4 linked regions of the Homo sapiens genome follow. The protein of the gene in region 1 interacts with the protein of each later gene in a pairwise test. Each region holds a gene or a part of one and is shown on either strand. Other genes may lie near its edges. The genes, in order: LEUTX, STATH, ENTPD3 and AGPAT4.

Region 1 (7,517 bases):
GAGTTTGGTTGATTTAAGTACTGATTGGTACACCTGTTCGTGTAGGGCACAGTCCTTTCATCGCTCCCACTAAAAGTTTAACACGGGAACTAAGCTATGAGGATGCAAAAGGATAAGGATGATACAATGGACTTTGGGGAATTGGGGGAAAAGGCAGGAGGATGAGGGATAAAAGACCACACATTGGGTACAGTGGACACTGCTGCAGTGATGGGTGCACCAAAATCTCAGAAATCACCACCAAAGAATGTATTCTTGTAACGAAAAACCACCTGCTCCCCAAAAACCTATTGAAACAAATATTTAAACATAAATAAATAGGCCGGGCACAGTGGCTCACACCTGTAATCACAGCACTTTGGGAGGCTGAGGTGGGTGGATCACCTGAGGTCAGGAGTTTGCTACCAGCCTGGCCAACATGGCGAAACCCAGTCTCTACTAAAAACACAAAAAACTAGCTGGGCGTCTTGGCAGACACCTGTAGTCCCAGCTACCTGGGGGGCTAAGGCAGGAAAATCTCTTGAACCCAGGAGGTGGAGGTTGCAGTGAGCCAAGATCACGCCACTGCACTCCAGCCTGGGTGAAAGGGTGAAACTCCACCTCAAAAAAACAAATTTAATTAATTGAATAAATAAATACATAGACTTTGAATAATCATCATCCAAAAAGAAAATTAAATTAAAAGGATTTCCCTTTGAGGGAGCTATCTGTGAAAGGAAATTGCTTAATACAGGTGAGCACAAAAAGAGAAAGCACCCTCTTATTTCATATTTTATTTTTCAACTTGTTAAAGATTATATTTTCGAGCTACTCTCCTAAACTAGAAACCCACCAGCTCTAACTTAGTATTCTTCTCCAGGACAAAGGGTGTCATTTGTAAGGAATGACAAGATCTACAGGGAATGCTAAAATGATAAATTTAATACATCAGTGTGACTTAGTTAAAGCAAAATCTTCCAGAGTCTCAAACTTTGCGTGTTATTTTCTGGTAGCTCCTGAAAGCAGTCTGAGAAGAATACAACAGAAAAGATGAAGAATTGTTTTAAAACAAAAATTCAAAGTAATAATAATAAATAAAAGCCTAATATTCCCTCTCGCACTTGGCAGGCACCAACCTACCATTTTTGTACATTCAGCTCCACAAGACTGTTAGGTTCTACTCTGCCATCTCTTAAAAGTTAGCATCTAATTCACAGTACTATTTAAATTTCCCCAGTTGTCCAAAAGCATGTCCTTTATAGCTGTTTTAAAATCCATCATCCAATCAGATTTCATGCCTTTCATTGTTATGCTTCTTTAGTCTCCTTTGTCACCATGCCTATAGACTCAGGGGCTGAGGCGGGAGGCTTGCTTGAGCCCAGGAGGTCAAAGCTGCAGTGAGCTGAGATGGTGCCACTGCACTCCAGCATGGGTGACAGAGTGAGACCCTGTCTCAAAAAAAAAAAAAAAAACCTCTGTATTCTATAAATATAATATGTACAATTATTCCATGTCAATTAAAAATAAAAGAGAAAAAAGTCTTTATAATCCATGTATATGAAGTTCAAAAGCTGGCATTACTGATCTGCGATGACATAGTCAGGCAAGTTGGTACCATTGCATAGGCAGAGATGGAAAGAAGCTTGTGGGATGCTGGAAATATTCTGTTTCTGGATCTGGGTGCTGGCTACATGGGGGCTTAAAATCGCTGGTGTTACACTAATCACTCATGAACTTTTCTGCATGTATGTGCAACTTAGAATAAGAAAATGGAATTACGGTTCACATGCTAGGCATGCCTGGATCAGGCTAGTGGACAGCATCCTGTACCACCGTGTCCCATCCTAAGTGCTGTAGAAACATGTTCCTAATACTTCAGTGCATGCCAAAATAGGCAAATATTTTATTTACATTTGAAATCTCACAGTAGCAAGGTCAACTACAGCCACTTTCCCCCAGGGAGAGTCCAATATTTTATTCATGTCTCCTAAACTCTTATAATGAGCAACTACCATGGGCCAGGTCCTGTGCAGGGCTCTGAGGATCACAGGGAAAGACCCACAACCTCCCTCATGGAGACCAACATTCCCAGAAAACCCACGCAAATAAACATAGCGAGGTATGGTGAAGCTCCGGGAGTGCTGCCGCACCACACAGAAGTTCTGACCTGGCCTGGGGCGTATGAGAGAAGCCTTTGATGAGAAAGTAGGGAATGAGGCCTCTGAAAGTAAGGGGAGGGTGTGCTCCAAACAAATGCAACAAAAAGAGAAACTGTAACTGCACACGGTTTTCAGCCTCATGCCTCCGTGGAACCTGCCTGTCAGGCGGGCACCTGGAATCTCAAGCAACTTTCTCAAGGTGAGGCGATTTTTTTCTTTCATTTCTCAAGTAGCTTGTGGTAAGAAAAGTGAGCTGAGACTGGGTGCAGTTGCTCATTCCTGTAGTCCCAGCTGCTTGGGAGGCTGAGGCGGGAGGATCCCTTGAGCCTGGGAGGCGGAGGTTGCACTGAGCCGAGATCACACCACTGCCTGGGTGATAGAGCGAGACCCCATCTCAAAAAAAGAAAGAAAAAAGGGAAAGAAAGTGAACTGAGTGTTCTGTGTCTCCCAAGGCCCCTTGAATGGCTTTGTCCTTCACTTGGAATAAAATTCAAACTTCTTCACCTTGCCCCGACCTTGGTTGGCCTTTCCAGTTTGAGCTTTTCCCGATATTCCTCTCCCACAACACACCTCAACTACAGTGGCCTCTTATCTGCACCTCAGACATGAAAAGGTTTTTCATGTCTCTGGGCCTTTGCACTTGATGTTCCCTTTGCTTAGAACACTCTTCCCTCTCCTTCAGTGAAAATGATACTTCCTCAGAGACATCTTACCTTACCTTAAAACTACTGCACATCCTCTGAATCAGTGCTGTTGGTGGCATTCATAACACCAGTAGTATCATAATCAGAACTGCGTATTGTCTTGTTTCCTTTTTTATTTCCTGCTTCCCTCCCTAGAATGCCAGCACTTGGGAAGGCGGCAGTGAGTTCTATTTTTGTAAATCCCAATTTCCTAGTCACTGGAACAAATCTTAGCAGAGCAGGCATTCAAATAATTAAGCAAACAAATGAAGAAGTGTCAGGGGTGTTTTAACGTTAAGTTCTGCAAAATTCCCTGCTATTGGGGAGGTCATACCCTTTGAATATATCACTCTCTTTCCATCCTCATTAGTGTCATAGGGCAACTCCAGGGACTGATTCTAACATTTAAACGGAAAATTTGAGGCCCACTTTATCCTTTCCGATAGGATTTGGGAGTTTCTACCCTTGACTGTGTTAGAAGTGTTCCTGAATTTTATTCCTGTAAAAGACATAGATGGGGCCAGGTGCAATGGCTCACTAGCACTTTGGCAGGCCAAGGCTGGACGATCTCTTGAGCCCAGGAGTTGAAGGCTGCAGTGAGCTATGATGGCACCACTGCACTCTAGTCTGGGCAACAGAGTGAGACCCTAAAACAAAACGTAAAAAGATACAGATGGGTCCTTCAATCATTTGGCCTTCAGGCTACCTGCAATGTTCCCAGAGACAGAGTTCTTTCGCTAGTCCAAGACTTTTCCAAACCAACCTGGTGGGGGTGTGGAGGTTGCGGGAGAGGACAGAGTTGAGGGGTAGTATAAGATGGGCCAAGACCAGAGTCCCATCTCTGCTTCAGAAAGCTTGGGTCCACATTGAGTGTGGGGAGGCCATATCTCATGGATAGAGACTAGATCTGTCTAGTGAATTACACTCACCCCACAAATAAGACCCATCATGGAGAAGAACGTTAGGGGGAGGAATAAATAAATGAGTTAATAAGGTGCCTGAAAGGTGGAGTAAATGAGTAACAGAGGGACAGAGAGAGGGATGCTCAGAGGAAAGAAAGAAGCATGATTCTTTTAATGCAATTTATATTTTAAGTTTCCTTGCTGAAAACTCGTTATGGGCTCCCCAGCTGCCCCCAAATCCATACTCAAGAGAAGATACAAGATCCCCTATGGTTTAGGCTCTGCCAAGTTCTTCACTGTCATCCATTGCTGTCTCAACTGGAAGAGGTTGAACCGAGATGGGCGGGTGAAGGGCTTAACTCCCATCATCCCAAACTCCTAGCAGGATGCCTCCTGCTGCACTCCGGGTCTCACTGGAAGCCGTCCACGCACAGGGCACCTCCTTCACCTTCCAGTTTGAATCATCTTACCAACTTATTTTTCTCTCAGCGCCTTGTTTATTTACTCATTGATCCCAAGTGACATTTTTGAACATTTTATCCATTTTCAGTTCGCTCCACTTTCTTTTGTTTTCTTCCACTCTCTGGAGTCAAGGATCAGTCTTTTTTTTTTTTTTTTTTTTTAAACATAGTTTTATTCCCAGTGCCCTACACAGCATCAGGCATATAATAGGTTCTAAATAAACAGATATTGAATGGATTATTGGAGGGCGTGGTATTAGGGTAGGACAGGGTGGGGACATGATTACATTAAAATTCTGCTTAAATAAGCGGGTCTTTTAGCCCAGCAGTCACATAGACTCAGCTCAGGAGCTCTGCAGCACACAGCTGATCGAACCCACTCATTTCTAGAGGACACCATGTTTGGTAAGTTGGGCGAAGGCAAGAGGCTGGGGTTTCAGTGATTGGGTTGCAGACAAATCAAGTGAGAGGTGTGGGACCTTGTGGTGGCTTCTTAGAAACCACTGGGTAAATTTAGAAACCACTGGGTTATACCAACAAGGATTGTTTGAAAAACACTTTGCAAGGGATTCTAGTAACTTAGGAATTTGTTTCTCCACATCTCTTTTTTAAAGAGATGGGGTCTTGGTATGTTGCCCAGGCTGGCCTCGAGCTCCTAGGCCCTAGTGATCCTCCCACCTCACCCTCAGGAGTAGCTGGGACTTATAAGTGTGTGCCACCATGTCCCGCTAATTTTTAAATTTTTTGTAGAGACAGGATCTCACTCTGTTGCCTAAGGTCGTCTTGAACTCACATCCTTTTTAATGCCTGGTAACTTTCATACTTTTTAAATGTCAGTCCATTGATGGGTATAAAATAGTATGTGATCTTTAATTCCCATTTCTTTACTAACCCGTGTGATTGAATCTGTTCACTCTATTTTAAAGGCCATTCTGTTTTTCCCCTATGCTAATTTTTATATTTATATCATTTCCCAGTTTTTAGTATGTTTTTTTTCTTGAGGCTTAGTAGAATATTTTTGTTGTCTTCTAGACACTAATAATTTATCTCTTATATGTGTTGCAAATATATTCTCCCAGCCTGGCTTGTGTTTTTCAATTTACTTATGAGTACCGTTGTACAAATATTCTAAAAGTTGTCATTGTGATATTTATCAACATTTTCCTTTTATAATTGTACTTGTAAAACGTAGTTTAGAAGTATATTACTGGCTGGGCATGGTGGCTCACACCTGTAATTCCAACACTTTCAGATGCCAAGGCAGGCGGATCTCTTGAGGCCAGGAGTTCAAGACCAGCCTGGACAACATGGCAAAACCCTGTCACTACTAAAAATACAAAAATTAGCCAGGCATGGTGGCATGTGCCTGTGGTTCCAGCTACTTGGGAGGCTGAGACACAAGAATTGCTTGAACCTGGGAGGCAGAGGTTGCAGCAATCTGAGATTGCACCGCTGTACTCCAGCTTGGGCAACAGAGCAAGACTCTGTCTCAAAAACAAAAAAAGTGTATTTCTTGGCTGGGGACATAAATGTAATTTTAGTTACATTTTATTTTAACTTCTTAAAATGATTTGATTCTAATAGAAAAATTATGCATCAACAAGCTCACTTATCAAAACTTGTACCTGGCTCTTCTAATACATTTTCCTATTGTTTAATACTAAACTTACAAAAATACTAATTAGTCGATTTTACATATTGACCTCTCAGCTTGGTAGATGATTTTAAACTCAAAGCCACATCCTTCCTCGATTTTACCTCCTATAACTTATCAATGTGCAGTGTTGCTTTTCTAAAGACCAGTAGAATTCTAATTACCATTCCTTTGATGGAAATTCTACTTCCCTTTAGAAGCTTCTGGAAATTTCTATATATTCCTGGTATTCTGATATTTTTGCAACAACGATCCTTTTGTTCATTTATTGTGCTCATCGTGGAATGTCTTCATTCTGGAAACCCCTGTGCCTCATCTCTCAAATCTTGAATTTTTTTTAATAAATACTTTCATGATACTCTCTGAAACATTTTTTAGTCAGAGATATTTTTAGTCACATAAATATTGCTAGTGCTGGACATCCCTGAGCAGAGATCTTATTTTTTTCCGACCTTTTCACTCTTTTTGTCCACTTTTGTATACTTTTTCTACTTCCTGGAATAGCTTTGTCTTCCAACTCTTCTATTATTGCCTAAGGGTTTCTTTTTAGCTACTGATTTCAAAGAACATTTGTCTTATCAGATTTTCCTTTCTTTTCAAGACTTTCTTGATGTATGAGTGCAATATCTTTTATCCGAGCATATTAATTTTAACATTTATAGATTTTCTTTTTTTTTGTAATTTTTTTCTAATTGTTTTATATTTTTAGTAGAGATGGGGTTTCACCATGTTGGCCAGGCTGGTTTTGAACTCCTGATCTCAAGTGATTCACCCTCCCTGGCCTCCCAAAGTGCTAGTATTACAGGCATGAGCCACCGTGCCCAGCCTTATTTCTTTTCTTAAGAAAAAATGTGGTTATTTGCTGCTTTCCTCCTCTTCTTTCTTTTTCTCTTCCACTTTCCCTTTCTTTTTTCTCTCTTTCTCTCTGTCTCTCCCTCTCTCCCTTTCTTGCTGTCCCCTTCCTGTTTGAGAATTTTTCTTCAATGTCCTGTAAATTTTTGTTCTCCCTTTGTGTCTAAACAAATGCTGAGACACTAAGAGAAACCCATGTGCCCGATCACTTGTCTTCACTGTGCGATAATTGGGCAGCATGTTGGCTTCTGTTTTTCCATGTATTTGCATGAGGAATAAGAGCATCCTGAAAATAGAAACTTTCCTATAAAATAGATGACCATGAGAATCAGGTTTTACTAGATGATGAGGTCTTATTTATATTCTAAACCATAGTAAAAACTCCCATTATGCACTAATACAGTTTGCATATTTGTCCCCTCCAAATCTCATGTTGAAATGTGATCCCCAGTGTTGGAGGTGGGCCTGGTGGAAGGGGTTTGGATCATGAGAGCAGATCCCTCTGAATGGCTTAGTGCCATCCTCATGGTAATGAGTGGGTTCTCTATCTCTAAGTTCACCTGAGATCTGGTTGTTTAAAAGAGTCTGGGACCTTCCCCTGCTGTCTCTTGCTCCCACTCTCACCATGTAACACCTTGGCTCCCCTTCGCCTTCTGTCATGAGTGGAAGCTTCCTAAGGCCCTCACCAGAAGCAGATGCCAGCACTATGCTTTGTGTATAGCCTGCAGAGCTGTGAACCAATTAATTCCTCTTTTCTAATTTACCCAGTTTTAGGTAATTCTTTATAAATGCAAAATGGACTAACACATGCACCAAGCCTGTAATTA
Region 2 (7,678 bases), on another chromosome or scaffold:
TACATTGAGTGACACTCGATGGCCTGACAAGGCCCTCTTTAGATACTGCACATGCAGCAAGGTCTAAGAGAGATGAAAGTTGGCCTTCAGGCAGTTTACACTGTAGTTGGGAGATAGAAACAACAAGTGAAAAAATAATACATAGTATCTCAAGTAATCATAAGTGTGCTAAAGATGAAGAAGGCAGGACTAAGGCAAAGAGGCAATTTAAAATAGGATGGTCAAGAAAAGCTTCTCTGGCACAGTGGCATTTTAGAAAACATATGAAGTGCTTATGTTCATAAGTTAGCATGAAAAAAAAAATCCAGCAGAAGAAATAGCAGGGCTGCATTCTACTGTGGTAGAAATACATTTATTGCGTTTGGGAAAACTCTAATGAAAACAGCATGAATAGAGAAGGAAAGATGTGGATTAAAATAAACTATATTACAGAAAAGAGGTGAGGAGATGATTGAAGCGCCATAGGTCAAAGATAGCCTTTGGATTGAGATAAATGCCATTGGATCAGGCATTGATCTGATTTATATTTTGGAAGGGAGGCAAGGGTTGAAGCATAGATCCCTTACTTTGGCATTACAGAACCCTGCTGGCCCTTAATAGTTTTACATCCTTTTGTTCTACCTGTTCATTCTTTTTTTCCATATTCTCCTAACCTACAACTTAATATTTATGATTTAGTACATACTTTCAATAACTCAAACAACTCCAGTGAAGTCTGAATTTGATTAATTATATTTGCTAAAATCTCAATCCTACTAATTGTTAAATCTTCTTACACTGCATCTCTACCAAGAAAACGCAAATGTACAAAGAAAAGAATTTATTTTATGTTTTATAAATGTGGCATACAATGTTGCTAAGCAAATAATATTCTTGTATTTAGTTTTATAGCTCTCACCCTTTCCCTTCAATAAAATGTCCAAATGTATCATTAAGTTTTCTGAAATATCCAACTCATCTTACCTTGTAGTCAGTTCCAGAAAACAATCTACTCTGAATTAAAAACTGAGCCCATTTGATCTAACCCATTTAAGCTCTCTACTTTCACTTGTTTATAAATTAATCTATACTTGACCAGATTTGTAACTCTCTGCAACATCTTGATCATTGACATGATTCTAATGTTTTTCCAGAGATATATTCCTGTTGTTCCTGGTTTTGTATTTCCTCCTTTATACTTGGAGAATTTTAAAAATTAAGATGTTCTTTTTCATGAAGATTATGATGATGAAAATTATAATAATGATAGAATCTAATATTTGCATTTGAGTCATTTTAATTTACAATGTGATTTTTATATACTCTCCTTTAAGTTTCACGTATTACTGTAACATTTTATAAATAAGAAAATTTTAGTTTAAAGACATAAAGCAAACTAAGCAACCTATAAGGTCACTGCAACATGGTAATTAACATTTCCTTCCTGATGTTTCATCCTCTTGGCTTCCACAACATACAAACAGCCGAGAAATACCTCTTCTGCTATTCTTTTCCATCACAGATTTTTTTCATAGACTTTCTATTTTCTCTTACACATTACATCAGTGCTCAGCAGGATATCTGTCCTCAGCCTATTCTCTTCTGACTCTACACATCTTGATTGTATAAGCTGTAATAATCTCATAGTTTGATTACAATCAATAAGATGATAAGTGCCCAATCTGCAACTCCATTGTTGACCTTCTTCTCCCAATTTTAGACTCATGTTTTCCTGGGTTTCTCTGTCTTAGCCTTTATCCTTGTCTGATTCACAAATTATACTGTAAACTCCTTAAGAACAAGAGTAAAGCTTCTCATGTCATGTCTCCAGAATAAACAACATTCTATCTATCTAGTAGATTATCATATGTTGTTCAGCATTTGTCAATCATATATGTCATTTTAGTAATTCAAACAGGAACATAATATAACATTTTTAGTTAAATAAATAAATATCATGGATATTGGTCATAAATGGTTTCATGTTTCCATCATAAGAGAATTGCAGAATAAGGAGAAGGAGGAGCAGCAACTGGAGCAGCAGGAAGACAAGGAGGATGAAGAGGAAGAGGAGAAGGAGACGGCAGTAAAGAAGATAGAGAAGCAAGATTGAGGAGAGCCCAGCATAAACATCACTACAAATACCCATTCATGGGTTGTATCCTTAAGCAAAAATTGTATTGCCTCACCTGTGATAAAGCAGTAGTTCTTTGTTGATGTTTCCTTTGTAACGAAAGGTCATGACATTTTCAAAGAGAACAGTGTTTGGCATAGAGGATAAGATATCTGTTTTCTTTAATTATAAAATATGAAGTCATGTTCTGGTTCATCAGTCTTCTAAATTGGTCTGCTCTTCCTGGAGGGTGGGACCATAACTAACACGAGAAGGTCACTCCTTTGTTTCTAGTCTGCTATCCTTGTTTGACCTATCATACATAATCCCCACACTTCCTAACTTGGGGAAGCAGAAAATGATGGGTGGACTAATGCCTACATGTTGGTATTCCAACATAACATGTAGATGAGTTAAGTTTAACTGTAATTTTAAAGTGTGTATATTAAGATGTATCAATATTTCTTACCATGTAGTTTGCTGTTTGTTAGTGCCTTTGGGCTATTAGTTTGCTTTATGTTCACTAGAACATGAATACCTTAGATCTACTAGAACAGTACCTAGTATTGTTGGATAAATGAAGTGGTGAAGAAAACCAGAGGTAAGAAAGGAGAAGAGAGGGAGAAGAAAGAAAGAAGAAAAGAAGAAAATCATTTGACTTTCCCCAAGTAATCGAAGCAGTTTATTTTTAAAATCAGATATAGTTCAGTAGTTACTGAACCATGGGCCAGGCACAATGGCTCATGACTGCAATCCCAGCACTACTTGGAGGCTAAGGCAGAAGGATTTTTGTGGTCAAAAGTTCAAGACCAGCATGGGCAACATAGCAAGACCAAGTCTCCACCAAAAACAATTTAAATTAAATTAACCAAGAGTGATAACACATGTCTGTAGTCCCAGCTAAACATGAGGCTGAGGTTGTAGGACCACTTGAGCCCAGGAGTTCCAGGCATCTGTGAACTATGATCTCACCAATGCACTCAAGACTGTGCTATGCAGCAAGACCCCATCTCTGGAAAAATAAAATAGTTACTGAACCCTATGTAACTTTTTTCCACTCAGAATGTAAAGAGATTGTGTTTGTTTTACACATGAGAAGAAACTTTGTATCTATAATGCTTATAAATCTCATGACAAAAGAATAAGAATAATATCTATCTAATTTAATTTGAATTATTTATTTGCCTTAAGAAATGATTTATATTTTCTTGTATATTACCCAGAGAGTAATCATAATTTCCAGTAAGGCTGTTCCAATACAGCATAAAAATTTACCTAATAAATACTTCCTTAAAAAATCTGATACAAAATTAAACCACAAATTATCTTTACTGGTTAAAGCCTAAGGATAACTAATGCATTCAAGAGACAAATATGTGGTTGTTTTTTTTTTTATGTTTTTGTGGAGATACGGGTCTCACTATGTTGCCTAGGCTATTCTTGAACTTCTATGCTCAAGCAATCCTCCTGCCTCGGCCTCCCAAAGTGCTGGGATTACAGACATGAGCCACTGAGACCAGCCTTGTTTCAAACTTCACAGTACCCAAAGAATCACCTGGAGATAATGTTAAAATGCAAACGCCTTAGGACAACCCCAAGATTCTGACTCAGCAAGTTTGCGAAGGTGGACTAAGAATTTACATTTCCACAGGCTCCAGCTGATGCTGTCTGTGATGTTCCCATATGGCACACTCTGAGGAACAATGCACTAGGCTGTATAACTTACCTCAACTTTATATATAAGTTTTTGATATTCGTTTCTTAGTACATTGAGTTATCCAACCAGCAGTGAGTAGGGTAATTTTTACACAAATTTTCCTAGGAATGTAATGAAAACATTTTTTCCTTCACTCTAGTGTAATCATGTCAACACATGGCTGCTATGGAAAAATATGTAGCCTTAAAAACTCCAGGAAATTAAATTGAATTTCCAAATACATATATTCAGTCATATGTGAGATATGTATCAGTGAGCACTTAGAGTCATTTCACCATAAATATAATAATTTTTTATCATATAGTACCCAAAAGATTACTGAATTTGGCAAATGTTTACGTTCACTTTGTAACTTAAAATATTCTAAAGTCAATAGAAGATGGTAAAAGTATGAGATAAATAATGATTTGAAGAAAAACTCTTGAAGTATATGAAGACTGTAATTTTATTATGCCAGTTACCACGAGTTATCAGAGAACATGTAAAATCTTGATAACATGGTAAGTATTATTTGTGTCATAGAGTTGTTCCACCTTGGACACATACTTGTGGAAACATCTTTATCACTGCAATTATTTCTATGCCTGGTTTCCTCCAGCATGCTTTTCTGTCATCTGACTCACTCAGCGCTAGACTAACAGTGGGATTAACATGCAGTGGGTACAGTTGTTTCCTGGTTACTTTGTCTTCACAATCATCTATTGCAAAATCACTTTGTTACGGTTATTTTTATCATTTGTAGAGACAGATTTTGGGCATTACTTTTAGTTTCCATAATGTGATCTCATAATTGCCATTATTTAACAAAAACAAATGGGGGACTTCAGAGTGTTTAAATACATTGGCCCTCTAGGGTAGCACATCATCTCTTGAAGCTTCACTTCAACTTCACTACTTCTGTAGTCTCATCTTGAGTAAAAGGTAATATGTTCATGTATAATCGAATATGTTGTCTTAATCTAGAGTGTTGCTTCCTAAAATCTTTTGAAAACTAATTATAAAAATGTGTATTTATGTAATGATAATTTCTCATAAAGAAACAATTGAGAGAAATGATGACCTTCTTAGGATCTGAAGGTAAGTTGAGAATCTGAATAACTATACATTGAAATCAGCAATCATCATGCAAAGTAAATAATGTGGAATATGGAGACATATTCCAACTTCTCTCCTGATGGAACTTCTGAAAAGCTTTTTATTTCCTTGTCTACGTACTGGCATCTACTCTGCTACTTACTACTTTTACCTTTATTCGAAGTTCATATTTTAAGAAAATAGCATACGTTCTCTTTTTTGCAAATGTATATATTGTTTCACAAGTTTAACTTTTAAAAATTTACTTTTTTCCCATAAGTAAACATTTCTCACTACCTTTTCATTGACCTTTCCATCATTTTAAACAGTTATGTCATTCTGCATAATAAAAAATGTTGTATAACAGTCATGCTTTACTGCCTTACTGTTTTATATTACTTAAGTTGTTTTCATTCAGTTGTGATATGGCAGAAAACAAAGATTTTACTATTTCATATTTTTATTATTTTTCATTGGGGAAATATTTTTTTAAAACCATGACATATATATTTATATATCTATGTCTATATATCCATCTTTCAGTTTATCAAGGTTAGTAAAACAAAACTACTCTTCTATGAGCATTTTTTGATTCCATACTTTCAATAAAATTTACAGGTATAAAATACACTAAAGTTTTTATGCTTTTTGCATCATAAAATGACTGATGGGTAGGTTTATCTATCAGGTGATAGAAAAACCCCAAAGTACATATTATTTTTACACTTACTCTAATACCAGAAATTTCCTTTTTTTTTTTTTTTTTTTTTTAATTTGAGACAGAGTTTCGCTCTTGTTGCCCAGGCTGGAGTGCAATGGTGCAATCTCGGCTCACCGCAACCTCCACCTCCCGGGCTCAAGTGATTCTCCTGCCTCAGCTTCCTAAGTAGCTGGGATTATAGGCACTCACCACCATGCCCAGCTAAATTTTTATTATTATTATTTTTAGTAGAGACGGGGTTTCTCCATGTTGGTCAGGCTGGTCTTGAACTCCTGACCACAGGTGATCTGCCCACCTTGGCCTTCCAAAGTGCTGTGATTACAGGCATGAGCCACCACACCCGGCCAGAAATTTCAGTTTGAATAACTGAGGCAAATCAGTGAATAAGTAACAAAGCAAATGCCATAAATCATGAGTTCTGCTTTATGTTTTGGAGATTTGGGGTTATTAATAACAGTAATTTTTTTTATAATTAGGTAAAAAATATTCTTGTAATGTTTTATCACAAGTTATTGGTAAAAGAGATTAAAATAATGAAGACCATTACCTTTATATGAATTACTCTATAGTTTTCAATAAACAGGTAAAAATGTCATTTATTTGTAACTCTTGTGGCAATTATGTGTTTCACTGAAAATGTCTTTATTTAGATGTTTATAATTTACAAATAAATAATCTAACGTTTTTTGTTTAATAACAAAGGAACTGGGTTAACTGGCTTATACTGTTTATGATAACATATCACAGTCCCAGATAAGGTTAATTTTGTTGAATGAGATTATTTAAAATATTAAGTCATCTTCACCAATTCAACTTCTCAGAGGAGGTACGAATATTTTCTCTGTGACTTCTTATCAGTTTGATTGTTCTCTACCCAGTATCATTAATGTTCTAATCTGAAGGTGACCCCATTTTTGCAACTCTCAAGACAGAAATCTGGCTCATTTTCAGTAACATTATAAAGCGATTGCCCATTGCTGGTCATTCTAACATCCAAACATCTCTTTACACTGTACCTTAAATATCATCCCTAATGTCATTATTTAAGGCGCCCCATAATATCCAGTTCTATCTTCCCTACATTTTGAACTGTTCCAGTTTTATCTTCTGATAAACTGCTCCAGTTTTATCTTCCCTACATTTTGAACTGTTTGCACTTTCAATATGGTATCCTCCCTCTTTTTCATTTTCTTGCAGTCACCCAACACCTCTTTACTCATCCTGCATAATCCAACTCAAGCTTTACTTTCTTCTTTACCTTCATACCCCTATTCTCTTGGTCTGTGTAAGGTGTTGATTTGTGTGTTACTCTAATGCCTTAGCATTTCCATATCAATACACTCACTTTTACTTATCAGTGTCTCCAACAAGTCTCCAAGTTTCATGATGTCAGGCAATGGGTTTTAATTGTCTTTCTATCTGGAGTGTGTCTCCCAGTGCTTTGGAGCGTAGTATAATCAATAAACTTTTGATGGGCGAATGCAAGAAAAAATGTGATACTGAATTTCCACATATGTTTTCAGAGAACCCAGCCAACTATGAAGTTCCTTGTCTTTGCCTTCATCTTGGCTCTCATGGTTTCCATGATTGTAAGTATATCAGGACATTTGAAGAATATGTTCTCAGTACCTATCCCAAGAGTCTCTCTATTCCTTGTGTTCTGGCATATATTGGTGTTTACTTGAATACAGCTTTATATGTTTAAATGTTTCCATATGAACTTTTTTTTGTACTAACCTACATAAGCTATATAAGGATTTAGAATAAATAGTCATTATTCATCTACAGACACTAAAGTATATTTAGCTTAGTGTGAAATAAAAGAAAGTTTTACTGAACTTCTTAAATATGTGGAACTGAGAGCTTCTAAAAGTATCTTTAAACATGTAATGCTCTAGACAATCTGAAGTTAGAAATCTCAGGAATGAACTAGGTGCACTTGAGTGGAATTCAAGTATTAGAAGATGTCAAAGTAGAAATTTTCAAGTCATTCCTTGCAAAAACTAACTTAAAATTAGTATACAATTATTTAGCACACACTTTCTAAAATAAAGCTGCTTATTTTTAACTATAA
Region 3 (7,024 bases), on another chromosome or scaffold:
CCCAATAGTTTTACCAAGACTATTATTATTATTTTTTTAGAGACAAGGTCTCACTCTGTCACCAGGCTGGAGTATAGCGGCACAGCTCACTGCAGCCTTGAGCTCCTGGGATCAAAGGATCCTCCAACTTCAACCTCCTGAGTAGCTTGGGCTACAGGTGTGCACCACATGTACAGTTGATTTTTTTCATTTTTTGTAGAGACGGGGTCTCACTATGTGGCTCAGGCTGGCATCTAACGCCTGGCCTCAAGCATCTTCCCATCTCAGCCTCCCAAAGCTGGGATTACAGGCATAAGCCACTATACCCAGCCCAAGATTATTATTTAGTCAGTATTTTCATTGAATGTCTTTTTATCTTTTTAAAAAATTAGGTATAACTTCTATTCAGTGAAATGGATAGATCTTAAGTCGTGCCCCTAAGTTGGGTGTTCTTGCCTTCTAAAAGTATGTTTTTAGAATAGTAAGGGCAATTTATAAGTTTATAATGTTTTTTTAAAAGGAAATTATACCTAAGACACTGATTTGCTTTCATTTTCAAGTTTTCTCCAAAGGACTTTGAAAGGTTTGATGAGTTTTGACAAATGCACACATCCATATACTCCACACTCTGTATAGCGCATTGCCATTACCCCAAGAAAGTGCCCACATATTCCTTCTCAGTGAATCCCTGCCCCAACTTCTGCCCCCTGGCAATCACTATTCTGATTCCTGTTACCTTCCTACTTTTGAACTTCAAATAAATGAAATCATTTCAGTATAGTATAGTACTAATTTTTTTATTTTTATTTTATTTTATTGAGACAAGGTCTTATTCTGTCACCCAGGCTGGTGTGTAGTAGTTTGATCTCAACTCATTGCAACCTCCACCTCCTGGCTTCAAGCAATTCTCCCACCTCAGTCTCCCGAGTAGCTGGGACTACAGGCGCATATGATCACACCTGGCTAATTTTTGTATTTCTTGGTAGAGACATGGTTTCACCATATTGGCCAGGCTGGTCTTGAACTCCTGACCTCAAGTGATCCACCCACTTCGGCCTCCCAAAGTGCTGGGATTACAGGGGTCAGCCATCTGCCCAGCCTAATTTCTTTTTCTTTAACTGAGATTATTTTTAAATGAAATATTCTATGAGATTATTTTTAAGTGAAATATTCTATCACCTGGTTTAATTTTTTAAAAATAGATTTTTTGAATCTCCATTAAAACTAATGTTAGCTGGGCGTGGTGGCTCACACCTGTAATCCCAGCACTTTGGGAGACCGAGACAGGCAGATCACTTGAGCCCAGGAGTTCGAGACCAGCCTGGCCAACATGGTGAAACCCTGTCTCTATTAAAAATACAAAAATTGGCTGCCGTGGTAGCAGGCACCTGTAATCTCAGCTATTCAGGAGGCAGAGGCAGAAGAATCGCTTGAACCTGGGAGTTGGAAGCTGCAGTGAGCCAAGATCACGGCACAGCACTCTAACCTGGGCGATAGAGTGAGACTCCATCTCAAAAAAAAAAAAAAAGAAAAGAAAAAGAAAAAAGTAAAACAAATGTTATTGTAATTCATCTCAGGGATAACCAAAATATCAGAAAACTAGACCATGCATACCCTCCCTGCAACACTGTTTTAGTACACAATTTGTGAGGAAGGGCAAATAGGTATTGTTTGTGCTTCCCCAAAACTGGGGAGAAGGGGAGCTTATTTGCTACTCCATCTTAGAAGTGTGGGTCTCGCTAACACCAGAGAAGGTGGTTTATGCACCTGATTATGGGGCCAGTCCATCAATTCTACAAAGAATACCAGTGCCTGGTTTTTACCTCCCCCTCAAGTGTCTTCTGGGTCTTCTCATTTTAGGCCTCAAGGCCCTCTACCGAACTCCAACCATCATTGCCTTGGTGGTCTTGCTTGTGAGTATTGTGGTACTTGTGAGTATCACTGTCATCCAGATCCACAAGCAAGAGGTCCTCCCTCCAGGACTGAAGGTAAGTGTGAAGGGACTGGCAACAAAGGGAAGAAATGAGCATAAAGGGGAAGAAATCAATTATTCCAAAACCATGAGTTAGAAGAGCAGAAAATCCTTTCCCCCCATCTCTGGCTGAAGCCAGGAGAAGTTAGTGTAAGACGCAAGGGAGAAGGTCTGGACATGCTGGGTTTGTGATATTTGAGGCTACAAATTGAGGGTAGTGACTGACACCTTCTCCAAGGACTGTGTAGTCTTGCTTTGACTTCTGACTTCAAAGCTAAAATTTGTAACCAAGAGTTGCAGATAGCTATCAAAGATTTACCAGTTCAGCCAGGTGCGGTGGCTCACGCCTGTAAGGCACTTTGGGAGGCTGAGGCAGGTGGATTGCTTGAGTCCACGAGTTCGAGACTAGCTTGGGCAACATGGTGAAACCCATCTCTATCAAAAAAAAAAAAAAAAAATTTACCGGTTAGTGCACTTTCCATTTTGACCAGTTTATCTGTTCTCCCAACCACACAACCCTGATAATGAGTAAAGACCGAGGCTGAGCACAGTGGCTCATGTCTGTAATTCCAGCACTTCGAGAGGCCGAGGAAGAAGGATTGCTTGAGCCCAGGAGTTCAAGACCAACCTGGGCAATATAGAGAGACTCCATCTCTACCAAAAAGAAATTTTTCCAAAAAAAGGAAAAAAGAAGTCAAGACCAGGAGACCCAGGCACCTCTTCTAGCCTAGGCTGAGTGAACAAAAAATCAAGAACTTGAGAAGGTCTCCTTGAGCTCTATTTGTGCTGCTACTCTTGAGTCTAGAACATGTGCTGTGTTCCTTCCAACACTTCCCTCAACAACACCCCCCCGGCAAAAAAAAAAAAAAAATTACTCAGGACCTTGTGCTTAGTCCCAGAGGCCCCTCTTAGTTCTCAACAAGTCCATCCCCAAATGATCTTTAGGCTCAGAATCATAATATATCCCCAGGCTTGGCTCTGAGGGTGCCCTTGGAGACAGGAGGTGATTCCATGAGAGGCTGACAAGGGAAAGATGAAGCAAGTTGATGAGTCCTTCAATCATTTTGGGTAGGGGTCAGCAAACATTTCTCATAAAGGGTCAAATAGTATATATTTTAGGCTTTGAGGTCCATTTATAGTCTCTGTTTTATAACTCTTCTTTGTTTTTTGACTCATTAAGAATGTACAAACCCTTCTTAGCTGTGCCATAGGGACCAGGTAATTCAGCCATGTTCTTTGAATCTCATTTAACATTTACACTTGACCTCACAAGTCTTTTCCATATCTTCCTGCTGTTAGTGACTATTCAAAGGTAATATTTGAAATACATAGACATTTTTAAAAGAAAAGAAACTAATATTGTTTTGGACTCTAAGGATGGGTTTGAGCTAACATTCTAAGGCAGCTTTTCTAAAAGATTAGAGTAAAATCTCCATTAGATAATATAATAGCATTTGGTTCCTTGATAGGATATTTTATTTAAGAATCTCAGCCCTCATGAATAATGTGAATTAAAAATTAAAAAAAAACCTTATGCAATCACCCAATAATGAGAAGAAAGCAAATTACCCAGTTGTCCAAAGATATTAGCTGAGGCCTAAAAGAAGGTGTTTTCCCAAGCTCCAGGCACTGCCTTCTACAAACTACTGTATATAAAATTGGGACTTTGGGAGGCCGAGGCGGGCGGATCACGAGGTCAGGAGATTGAGACCGTCCTGGCTAACGTGGTGAAACCCCATCTCTACTAAAAATACAAAAAATTAGCTGGGCGTGGTGGTGGGCGCCTGTAGTCCCAGCTAGCTACTCAGGAGGCTGAGGCAGGAGAATGGCGTGAACCCGGGAGGTGGAGGTTGCAGTGAGCTGAGATAGTGCCAACTGCATTCCAGCCTGGGCAACAGAGCGAGACTCTGTCTCAAAAAAAAAAAAAAAAAAAAAAAAAAGGAACTGCAACTAAGAGTAATATATTTTTTATTTTTTATTTTATTGTTATTATTTTGTGAGACGGAGTCGTGCTCCGTCACCTAGGCTGGAATGCAGTGGCATGATCTTGGCTCGCCCCAACCTCTGCCTCCACAGTTCAAGTGATTCTACTGCCTCAGCCTCCCAAGTAGCTAGGATCACAGGTGCCCACCACCATGCCCAGCTAATTTTTTCTTGCTGTATTTTTAGTACAGATAGGGTTTCACCGTGTTGACCAGGCTAGTCTTGAACTCCTGACCTCAGGTGATCCACCCACCTCAGCCTCCCAGAGTGGTGGGATTATAAGCATGAGCCACCGTGCCCAGCCGCAACTAAGAGTAATATCTCTTTACACTTTGTATAGTGCTATTCAGTTAAGTCAGCGCTTTTCCCTCATTACATCACTTAGTTCTTATGCCAACCATAGAAGGTGGACAAAGCGAGCACCATGACTGCCATTTTGAAAGTGAGAAAATACAGGTTTGGTCAGTGAATGACAGGTCCAGAACTGAAACCTGGTCCCTTCTGTTCCCAAGGCCAGGGCTCTCTTCACTGCCTCCCACTTCTCCCTGACCCTGAGTTCTGAATGGAGATCCCAAATGGAGGGAAGGGATTGGCCTCAGATAAGAGAACACTTCCTGCTTTGCACAGGATGGAAAGGTAGGGAGGATGCATGCAGATGTGGGAAGGTTTGTTGAATTGAAGGAGAGGAGTTAAGCCTAGTACCACCCTTAGACCCTGATAGCTGGGCTGCCTGCCCTGGGCCCCACATTTCAGAAGGACCAGCTCTAGTTGCACTTCAGGCTTATCTCTCTCTATGACCCAAACGAATGTGTTTACCCAGAGCCCATGTTTCCCCTTCTAGAACACACTGTGGTGCCCAAGACTTCAGAATCTAGGGTCTTCGTGGACCTCCAGAAGGTGGACATCACCAATGGTCTGAGGGGTGGCCAAGAGGCAGCTGCTTACAGGGAGTGTAAACAGAGCATAGCTGTGTGGTCTGAACTGTCCACACACAGGTGCATGGGCTCTTTATTCTGTGAGAACAGGTTTGGGAAAGGGACAGGGCAGAAGCCTCTATTCATAAAATTTTGTCTCTAATCCTACAAATGTTAGAAATGGGCTGGTTAAGGCAGTTGCCAGCTGATGGCTTCTACTTGTTCTGGACAGTAACAGGCAAGTCCTCTGTTCAAAATGGAGAGACATGGAGGAATCAGATGGAAGACTAGTAAAATGAGTAGATAAAAATAGATCCCTGGGCAGTCTAGAGGGCACTGTTGAAGGAGAAAACCACACATGTTGAATGCTACTGTCTTAGGTTGGGCTCTCCAAGTCAAAGACATACGTGCAAGTAGATCATCTGGGGATGATCCCAGGAAACACTGGTGAGGGACTAGGGAACTGAGATGGGTCAGGCAGCCAAGAGAGGGCCTGCTATGCAGCAGGTCGGCACTGTGGGCAACTGGGACTCAGTCCTGCTTGAGACCCTGTGAGCTGGTACAGAGAACTCAAAGTTGTCCCATATCAAGGGGCATACAGGCATGTGCCTCCCAGATATCCCAGTCAAGGGCATATTTATTCACCAGCTTCCATCAGTCATTAGCTGAGAGGCTGCTCCCTGGATGTTAACTCTCTAGTCCTTCTGGCATATTTTGTGATCAGGTAGACTCGGGCCACTAGTTAAGCCTTCAGGCAGGTGGAAGATGGATAGTTCTACATCACAGTAGTAAGGCCTGAGGGGATGTGGGCAGAGAATTGTCAGTGACTACTCCATGTAAATAATATTGTTATTATCCCTGTATTGCAGATGAGAAAACAGGAAAAGAAAGGGCAAATAGCTTCCCATAGTTACACAGATTGAAAATAGCAGAACTGGTGTAAAGGAAAGAAAAGAGAACAGACAACAGTGGCCTTAAACAAGGGTTTGGAGGAACCAGGAGACACACCCTCCACCAATCAGCAGGCAGTTCAAAGAGGGGATTTTAAATCTCTTCTGAATCTTGGTAACAGACCCTAGCCACCATTGCAAGGGACAGGAAATTGTAAAACACAGGAAGATGAGCTCGGAAGGTCCATTCTGCTTAATTGGGTGGATTAAATGTGAGAAAAGACAGATGTTCTGGGCCAGTTGAACCAGAAACGGAATGACAGCTTTGGAAGAGAGTGTTCCACATGCAGTTTTTCTCAGGATATGGAGAGATCTCTCTTTTTTTGTTTTGAAGAGGATTGCAGGTGATGAAGTTGAGCAAATATGAGGGATTTTAAATTATTTGTTATGTTTATTTTTTTATACCATGAGCCCTGTTTTGCTTTCGTGTGCAGCTGACAGTTGGTTCTAAAGGGCCAGCTCTACAACAGCCTGTCTGGAGGGCTCTGAAATGTTACAGAGGACTCTCATGCAAGGTCGTATCTGGCTATTAAATCTAACCTTGGCTTGCCTAACCCTGGTTTATGTGAGGTTATGGTCAGAACTATTAAAATGCAGTCAAGGGGCGAAAATGTCTGAGTCTCTTGTGTTACTGGTCTGACTTGCTCCACAAGCTTGAAGAGTAAACATGATGCCATCACTTGTAATTTTCACTCGGCCCCCAGTCCCCCGCTTTATCATCATGAAGTCCAATACCTTCCTCTTGAGGCTTCACCCTCCCTACCCCTAATCATAACCATCCAAGAACTTTAGAGCTTCTCAGTCCAATGATCAATACTATTGTACTGCCTCTTGCAGCCATGTGATGTCACTGTTGAAGATGGGTTCTGCACAGTCTAAAGGTTTTAAGGATGGGCTTTTCCACTGTGACCTGCTCAGCCCACATTAGTTCCCCATACTGGGTCCAAGATCATAAGCCATTTTAGTCTACACTCCCATGCTCAGCCATTACTCTCCAAAGCAAAACCACTGGCCCAGTCTGTGTTGAAATCATTCCCTTTTAACCCTCATTGAGCCTTGCTCATCAGCCTGGATTTCTGGTGCCTTGTAGCCCACCCTGGTCTACTTCTTGGAGAGTAAGAGTTGGATAATTAGTTTCTTTTTTTTTTTTTTTTTTTTCAGAAAGCCTCGGTCTCCTTATGCAAATGGGTCCTCTCCTCCAGCCAGATCTGCACACCCCTTAACTA
Region 4 (7,024 bases), on another chromosome or scaffold:
CCCTTCTGTTTTCATGCATGAGGCAGTATTTTTCTTGCTCTGTTTTCTGGTCTAAGCATTGAGGCAGCATATAAAATGTTACTTTTTTTATTTTTTTTTTTTGAGACTGAGTTTCACTCTGTCTCCCAGGCTGGAGTGCAGTGGCGCGATCTCGGCTCACTGCAAGCTCTGCCTCCTGGGTTCACGCCATTCTCCTGCCTCAGCCTCCCAAATATCTGGGACTACAGGCACCCGCCACCATGCCCGGCTAATTTTTTTGTATGTTTAGTAGAGACGGGGTTTCACCGTGTTTGCCAGGATGGTCTCGATCTCACAAGGTCTTGTGATCTGCCCTCCTCGGCCTCCCAAAGTGCTGGGATTACAGGCGTGAGCCACCGTGCCCAGCCGAAAATGTTACTTTTAGCCGAAAGCAGAGTATGCTAAGAAAAGGTTTAGAAAATGAGCCTCTTTTGTAAAGAGCCACACAAACAAATCTACAATAAACGTGGGCCCTCAAGCCCATCAAGGCAAAGGAGATTTTTCTCAACGGGCCCTTCCTCCCCTGTATTCAGGCAGAGTGTGGTCATCGTGTAAACCAAGCTGAGAGGCACATCTCCTTCTTGTTAAAAGTCTCTTAGGGTGTTTTCCTCTAAACTATGTTCACATTTAAATGATAGTGTTCAACTTGGTAGGGTTCTCAAAGTGATCATCTACTCCAAAGCTCTTACACTACTGATGAGGAAATTCAGGTCCGAAAGATGAAGTGATTTACCCAGTTTTCCAGCTCACTGATCAAAGCCAGGTGCTGGAGTCCAGGCCCTTTCTCTCTCCGTGCAGGGCTGGGGCGACACCGAGTTCTCTAAGCAGTATGTGTCTGTGAGCAGGCCTGGGAGGCTGGCCCTTTGCCCTTCCGAGAAGATCGCTGAGCAGCAAGTGGAAGTGGTGCATGGTTTCTCCAAGCAGAGTGGTGAATAGACATCAAGGGACAATTCCTTTCTGTATCAGCCTATTTTGCTAGGAGCCTAGATCTAAAGCTTTACGTGCCCCAAATCTGGGTGCCCGACCCAGTTTGTCAAAGTGGGATTTCATTTTAATGATCAACCTTGCAGTCAGAAGTGTGGTGTATGTCAAAAGACAGTTCTGTTGATTTTGACCTTGGGATTTTAGGGCAGTAGTTCTCTGACTTTTCAATTTCATGGACAAGTAAAGTTTCTGCAAAATGGGAGGGGAATGGCAGGCAGCCAACAGAGGTGTGCCAACATTCTGGTCTTTCCAAGCATGGACATAAATAAAGAGAAACTCGCCATCTACCACTGACACAGTTATACTCTTTAATATGGGAAAGGCACCATCTCTGAAAACAGGGCCATCCTTTGAGTGGACCTAGTTTAGCTTTATGAAAAATGCACAGTATTTCTTGCTCGTCAGCATTTGGGACTCGTGTTGTTGGAAGGCTTTGAGAAACCATTCATGCCCTTGTGTGATCTTCTGTGGACAAAAGCAGTTCCCAGGTAAACTCGCTCTGAGGCTGAACCTACAACCTCAGAACCCCCTTTTTTCCAGGGAGGTCACGATAGCCATCACGGTTTCTTAATTGTATGGGGTGAACAGATTCTAACTTTTCATTTCTAACTTAAAGTACTTCTTCAGGTTGTAATTTGACATTTGCAGAAGGGACTATAACTTGGCCATTAATAGTGCAAATTAAGAAATAGGTGAGGCTGGGCACAGTGGCTCATGCCAGTAATCCCTTTGGGAGTAAGCACTTTGGGAGGCTGAGGCTGGAGGATCACTTGAGGCCAGGGGTTTGAGACCAGTCTGGGCAACATAATGGGAACCCGTCTCTACAAAAAAATTTTACAAACTAGCTGCACCTAGCGGTACACACCTGTAGTCCCAGCTACTGGGGAAGCTGAAGTGGGAGGATTGCTTGAGCCTAGAAGTTGAAGGTTACTGTGAGCTATGATTGCACCACTGCACTCCAGCCTGGGCAGCAGAGCAAGACCCTGTCTCTAAAGAGAAATAAGTGAAGGACAGCTACATTCAGAGCCGTCCTGTGGAGGCCAAGGTCGGGAGCAGCTCTGGGTGGGGTGCAGAGTTCAGGGTGCAGGCATGGTGGCCCGTGGGAAACACTGTGCTCTCCTGCTCTGGCCTTCAAGGACAAGAACCATTTTGGGGACTGGCAATTGTTTTTTCACTTAAACCATAAGGGCATTGCTCCTTAGAAGGGCAGCAGGGAGCCTCAAGGCTTGGCTCCCATGGTAAGTCCTTTGCAAGTCCTGGCCGTGCACTCGGGTGGTGTCTGCGGGCTGAGACCAAGGCTTGCGAGCGCTTCTCACAGAGCCTCTCCCCGCCCAGACTTGCTGACTAAGAGGAGCCGCTTCTTCCTCTCTGTTCCTCAACTTTCTCTTCTATTCTTCGTTCTTTCCTGTTCTTCCTCCCGTTCTTTTCTCCCTTCTTTCTTCTCCTGGGCCCTGGGAAAGCTGAGCGGACGTGCTGTGTGGACGTCTCCTTCGCACGCTTCCTCCCTAGTGCCTTTGTTGCGGGCTGCAGGGGGCGTTCGTCCGGGGATCTGCCGCCTCTCAATAGGATCTCGTTCTCCTCTTGGCTTGTAGGTTGATGCTTCTTTCTGGAAACAAACCAACTCTCCTTCATTCAATAACTACATTTCCCAGTTCCAACTTTATACTATGCCACACGGTAACACACAAAAACAAAAAACACGAGTCCTTTCCCTGCGGGGCAAATTTTATTACAAAACGGGTCCACAACCAAGATGGGCCACGGACATTCTGCTGCCAGAGCCTGGAGTCTGGCCAGAGCTGGCGGTGCTGTTCTCTCCCCGATAGTCAGTGGGAGGTCCTGTGGCAATGTCATGGGCCATAAGTGAGGGGAGGGGATGAGATTTAGTGTTTTAAACCACAGACAAAGAAAACTTTAAAGTGAATGGGGCTGGGCGCAATGGCTCACGCCTGTAATCCCAACACTTTGGGAGGCTGAGGCAGGAGGATCACCTGAGGTCAGGAGTTCAATACCAGCCTGGCCAACATGGTAAAACCCTATCTCTACAAAAATTAGCTGGGCATGATGGCAGGTGCCTGTAATCCCAGGTACTCAGGAGGCTGAGGTGGGAAAATTGCTTGAACCCGGGAGGCGGAGGTTGCAGTGAGAGGAGATCGTGCCATTGCACTCCAGCCTGTGCGACAGAGTGAGACTCTGTCTCAAAAAATAAAATAAAGTGAATGGGAAGTTCTGAGTTGGGAAGCTCCTAGAAAAGGGAGTGCTTTTTTCTTCTTGCTAGAGGTGCAAATAAAACAATCTTGGCCTAGCAAATGTCTTTCTGGAAACAAGACAGAAAAGGCACCATGGTGAGTTCCCCTTTGTGATATTACTGTAAAAAAGCACTATAAAGACTGTTAAGGAAAATAAATTCAAAAGCCACATTTGCCCATTTTTTAAAATGGGTGAGTTCTATGGCATGTAAGTGACATCTTAAGAAAGCTGTTTTTTTTTTAAAAAAAAACAAGGCACAAAAATATCACCCCCCTTGTCTAGTTATCAGGTGCCCTGTGGCCCCAACCTGGGATAAGAAAATCACCCCGTTCTGGTGGGCAGGCGAATGCCGCTGCTTCCCTGGCAGAGTTGGGTGCCACCTCTCTGGGCATTGCCTGTGCTGCTGACCGTCATGGTGCTCACCTCCTTGTCTCCTCCACCATCTGATCGCTCTCACTGCTTGAGGGTAGGAGTGCTTGGCACACACGTTGATTGTTCTTCAGTTGCTTGATGATGTGACTTCCCCTGAGAGCCCCCATGGCTTCTCTTGGCTGATGTCCAACAGCAGAGTCACGCGACAAGTGACGCTTCGGACCAGGCTTGTTAATGGGCTGCAGGGGGCCGAGGACAGAGCAGAGGCACCTGAACTGCCCAGGGAAGGGGTTGGGGGTTCTCCTTCCAAAATGGCCTAGTGTGTGGACTATTATTAAAAGTGCCTCTGAGAGGCCAAGAAAGCCTATGATTCAGTACACCCTGAATGAAAAAGAAGAAAAGTATGAGATACTTTAGACTTTTCTATCTCAAGTTGTTAAAGGAAAATATTCAGCATTTAAGTAGTATAAGTTTCAATTATAAGGAAGCTCATTTTCCAGAAAACTCGACTCCTTAGAGAACTGGGACATTACTAGGCTAGTTCATGGGACACAAACTGGGCCTCACTGTGACCCACACCCATTTTTGTGTGGCGTGCATGCTATCGGCCACGTGCAGCTTTTACAATAGCTGAGGCAGCTGCCCACCATACAACCTGGGCAATTCCCTGTGGCTGCCTGGTTCAGCTCTGCTCCCTGCAGGCAGCTTCTGCCCTGGCCCCTCCTCACGGCCAGGACCTGCCCTTAGACGGGCCAGCGGGCATCCTGGTGCCACAGCTCCTTGTTCCCCCCAGGTCCTGGCTCAGCTCAGCTCCCAGCCGCTTGAGCACGCCTGCTGACCTGGGTTCCTGGGTCCCTCCCTTGTGTTCAGCAGCTCCTTGCGGCTGAGCCCCAGTCCCTGAGCGGGAGCTCCGTGACATGAGACACCCAGGGAAGAGCCACCGCGTTCTTTCGCAGTGCATTTATGTGGGGCCGTGAGTCCCCTGTTCTCACCCAGGGACTGCAAGGAGCGCCATGAGGCTCTGGAGTAACTGCCCTGCAAGCTGCTCGGTGACACACACACCCTGTGGGTGGATGTGGATGAGTACATGGTTCCCACTAAGGATCTGCTTAGTGGAAGGACATGAGCCTGTTTGTTTACCTTTCACACGGTCTAACAATCACTTAGAAGAGTCACCCTGGACACCCAGTCCTGAGTGTGCTGTCACCTCTGAGAGCCACACCCAGCAGCCCTCCAGCCCTTTGTCATTCATGATGCCTTGAATCACGGCCCTCAGAGCCCTCCAGTGGCAAACAGGGTGGTAGGTGCGGGTGGGCTGCCCGAGGTGAACTGGCTGTGGAGGCCGGGAAGGCGGGGCATGTGCCGGGCCGGGCTGGGCGAGCTCCTCCTGACTGCGGGCCAGGTCTCCACCGAGTGTCCCCTGCGGGCAGCTTCGGCGCAGCATCCACTCCATTCTCCCGCCGACCTATCGTGGAAGGCACTGCTGCCCCATTAGACAGACTGGGGCCTGGGCTCAGGGATGCAGGTGCCTGCCCACAGAGGGTGGATCCTAGCCCAGGCTGGCCTGGCGCCAGGGTTCATGCTCCACGCCCTGCACTCAGTGACAGCTGCAGCGGCCCCACCACTCCCAGTGTCCCTGTGGGAGGGGCGGCCAGATGCAGCTTTGAGAAGACAGCAGCTGCCTACAAAGTGCTTTCTGGAAGGAGCTGCAGACCCCAGTTCTGCCGAGCCCCGGTGGCACCTGTGTATCTCTGCGATTCCCTTGGAAGCAGGGCCTCGGGAGGGACCTGCCACCGAGCCCCGTGTGGCGTCTGAGGGTCCTCTTTCCTGTCCCCCAGGATGCCTTTCAGGAGGAGTACTACAGGACGGGCACCTTCCCAGAGACGCCCATGGTGCCCCCCCGGCGGCCCTGGACCCTCGTGAACTGGCTGTTTTGGGCCTCGCTGGTGCTCTACCCTTTCTTCCAGTTCCTGGTCAGCATGATCAGGAGCGGGTCTTCCCTGACGCTGGCCAGCTTCATCCTCGTCTTCTTTGTGGGTGAGTGGAGGGCAAGGGGCTGGTGGGTGCTGACAGCACCACCCTGGGAGAGGTGGCATCAGGGCTGGGACGAAGGCCATCTGTATAGGCAGTTGTGCCGTGGATGAGGAGCAGGCTCAGCTTGCAATCACAGGGAAAGATTAGACTTCAGGATGAGTGCGAGGCCCTCGAATACCAGGCCTGGGACCCCCTCCGCAGCCTGGACGGTCCAGCCTCCCACCTGGGGCTGGATTCCACACGTTCCCTGTTGGGTGGTGATGCAGCTGCCACTTCACTCCCCGACAGCTGGGAGTGCTCCCTCCCTGTCCTCCGCAGACAGCTCTGCTCATTGGCATCATTTCCTGCTTCTGAAGAAAGCCCTGTGCTGGAGCCTGGCGGGGACGGATGGGCAGCTCCCTGCCTTCCTCTGGGGGCGCCTGTGGCTTCTCCTTTGCTGCAGGTGGATGACACTGAGTGGAGACACTCGGCGACAGAGCTTTTCATGGGTCTGCGCTGGCTCCAGGTGACCGGTATTCTCGGGCTACTGCTGCTTCTTGGTGGCAAGCCCCTGTGCACCCTGCTCCTTGCCTCTGGCGGGGCAGCCTGTCGTGCCTGCTTCCTGCCCTGTGAACAGCAGGTCCGTGCTTCCTGGAGCCAAGGAAGACTTTGGGGTTTCCCTGTGAAAGGCCCTGTCTCCCCAAGCCTGGCGTCCTCTGAGGCTTTGGAGAGCCCGGGAGAGACGGCACATTGTCCAAGCACACAGAGATCACGTGCTTCTTCCAAATGGACAGGACTCAGTTATTTTCTGTCAAACACAAAGATGCAGTATGCTCACTATAAAAGGCCCAAGCAATAGACAAGCGCAGAAAATGGAAAGTGTGTCAGGAGACCATTCCCATTGAGCCCACTTCCCAGATAATCGTTAATGACAATTTGATGCACGTGGTGGTTCCAGTCTCAAGCATATGTGCATCTATAAACCCGTATCAGTGGAGTTTCTTCAGCTCGCCTTTTCACCTAATGAATCATAACCACCAAAACAGGTCACAGCACATAAACCTAGCTCATTCATTCTGACTGAGCCAACCAATGCTGCAGCATATGGGTGCAGTAGACAAGCTGGCTCCTGTTCCTCAAATAGACCCTACTATACAGTCTTTTGAAAGATTAAGATGTATTTTAGTGTTAAAAATTAAAATATTAAAACAACACCCACACCGTGTAAGGGAAAAAAATAAGAGGTTGGAGAAGAAAGCACCTCATCTCCTTAAGGCAGGTCCAGGGGCACCCCCATGCCCCGCCATGCTGAGGCTGGCCAAGGGTCCGGGGCAGCTGCAGGTGCCAGGGCCCCTGGTAGGGCGGGGGCAAGCTCAACCCTTCTGCT

The links.
Region 2: the proteins of LEUTX (region 1) and STATH interact in binary tests that used the Homo sapiens proteins (3 or more experiments, as listed by UniProt).
Region 3: the proteins of LEUTX (region 1) and ENTPD3 interact in binary tests that used the Homo sapiens proteins (3 or more experiments, as listed by UniProt).
Region 4: the proteins of LEUTX (region 1) and AGPAT4 interact in binary tests that used the Homo sapiens proteins (3 or more experiments, as listed by UniProt).

What each region holds. Positions count from the first base shown.
Region 1 is NC_000019.10:39,774,339-39,781,855, forward strand, and holds the start of LEUTX (paired-like homeodomain transcription factor LEUTX), read left to right. Parts: upstream 1-4,515; 5' UTR 4,516-4,582; coding exon 4,583-4,589; intron 4,590-7,517.
Region 2 is NC_000004.12:69,991,296-69,998,973, forward strand, and holds the start of STATH (statherin isoform a precursor), read left to right. Parts: upstream 1-4,670; 5' UTR 4,671-4,730; intron 4,731-7,127; 5' UTR 7,128-7,142; coding exon 7,143-7,193; intron 7,194-7,678. UniProt on the Homo sapiens protein: Salivary protein that stabilizes saliva supersaturated with calcium salts by inhibiting the precipitation of calcium phosphate salts. It also modulates hydroxyapatite crystal formation on the tooth surface.
Region 3 is NC_000003.12:40,390,184-40,397,207, forward strand, and holds part of ENTPD3 (ectonucleoside triphosphate diphosphohydrolase 3), read left to right. Parts: intron 1-767; exon of another isoform or gene 768-1,839; coding exon 1,840-1,967; exon of another isoform or gene 1,968-2,386; intron 2,387-7,024. UniProt on the Homo sapiens protein: Has a threefold preference for the hydrolysis of ATP over ADP.
Region 4 is NC_000006.12:161,138,059-161,145,082, reverse strand, and holds part of AGPAT4 (1-acyl-sn-glycerol-3-phosphate acyltransferase delta), read left to right. Parts: exon of another isoform or gene 1-4,005; intron 4,006-4,616; exon of another isoform or gene 4,617-5,462; coding exon 5,463-5,661; intron 5,662-7,024. UniProt on the Homo sapiens protein: Converts 1-acyl-sn-glycerol-3-phosphate (lysophosphatidic acid or LPA) into 1,2-diacyl-sn-glycerol-3-phosphate (phosphatidic acid or PA) by incorporating an acyl moiety at the sn-2 position of the glycerol backbone.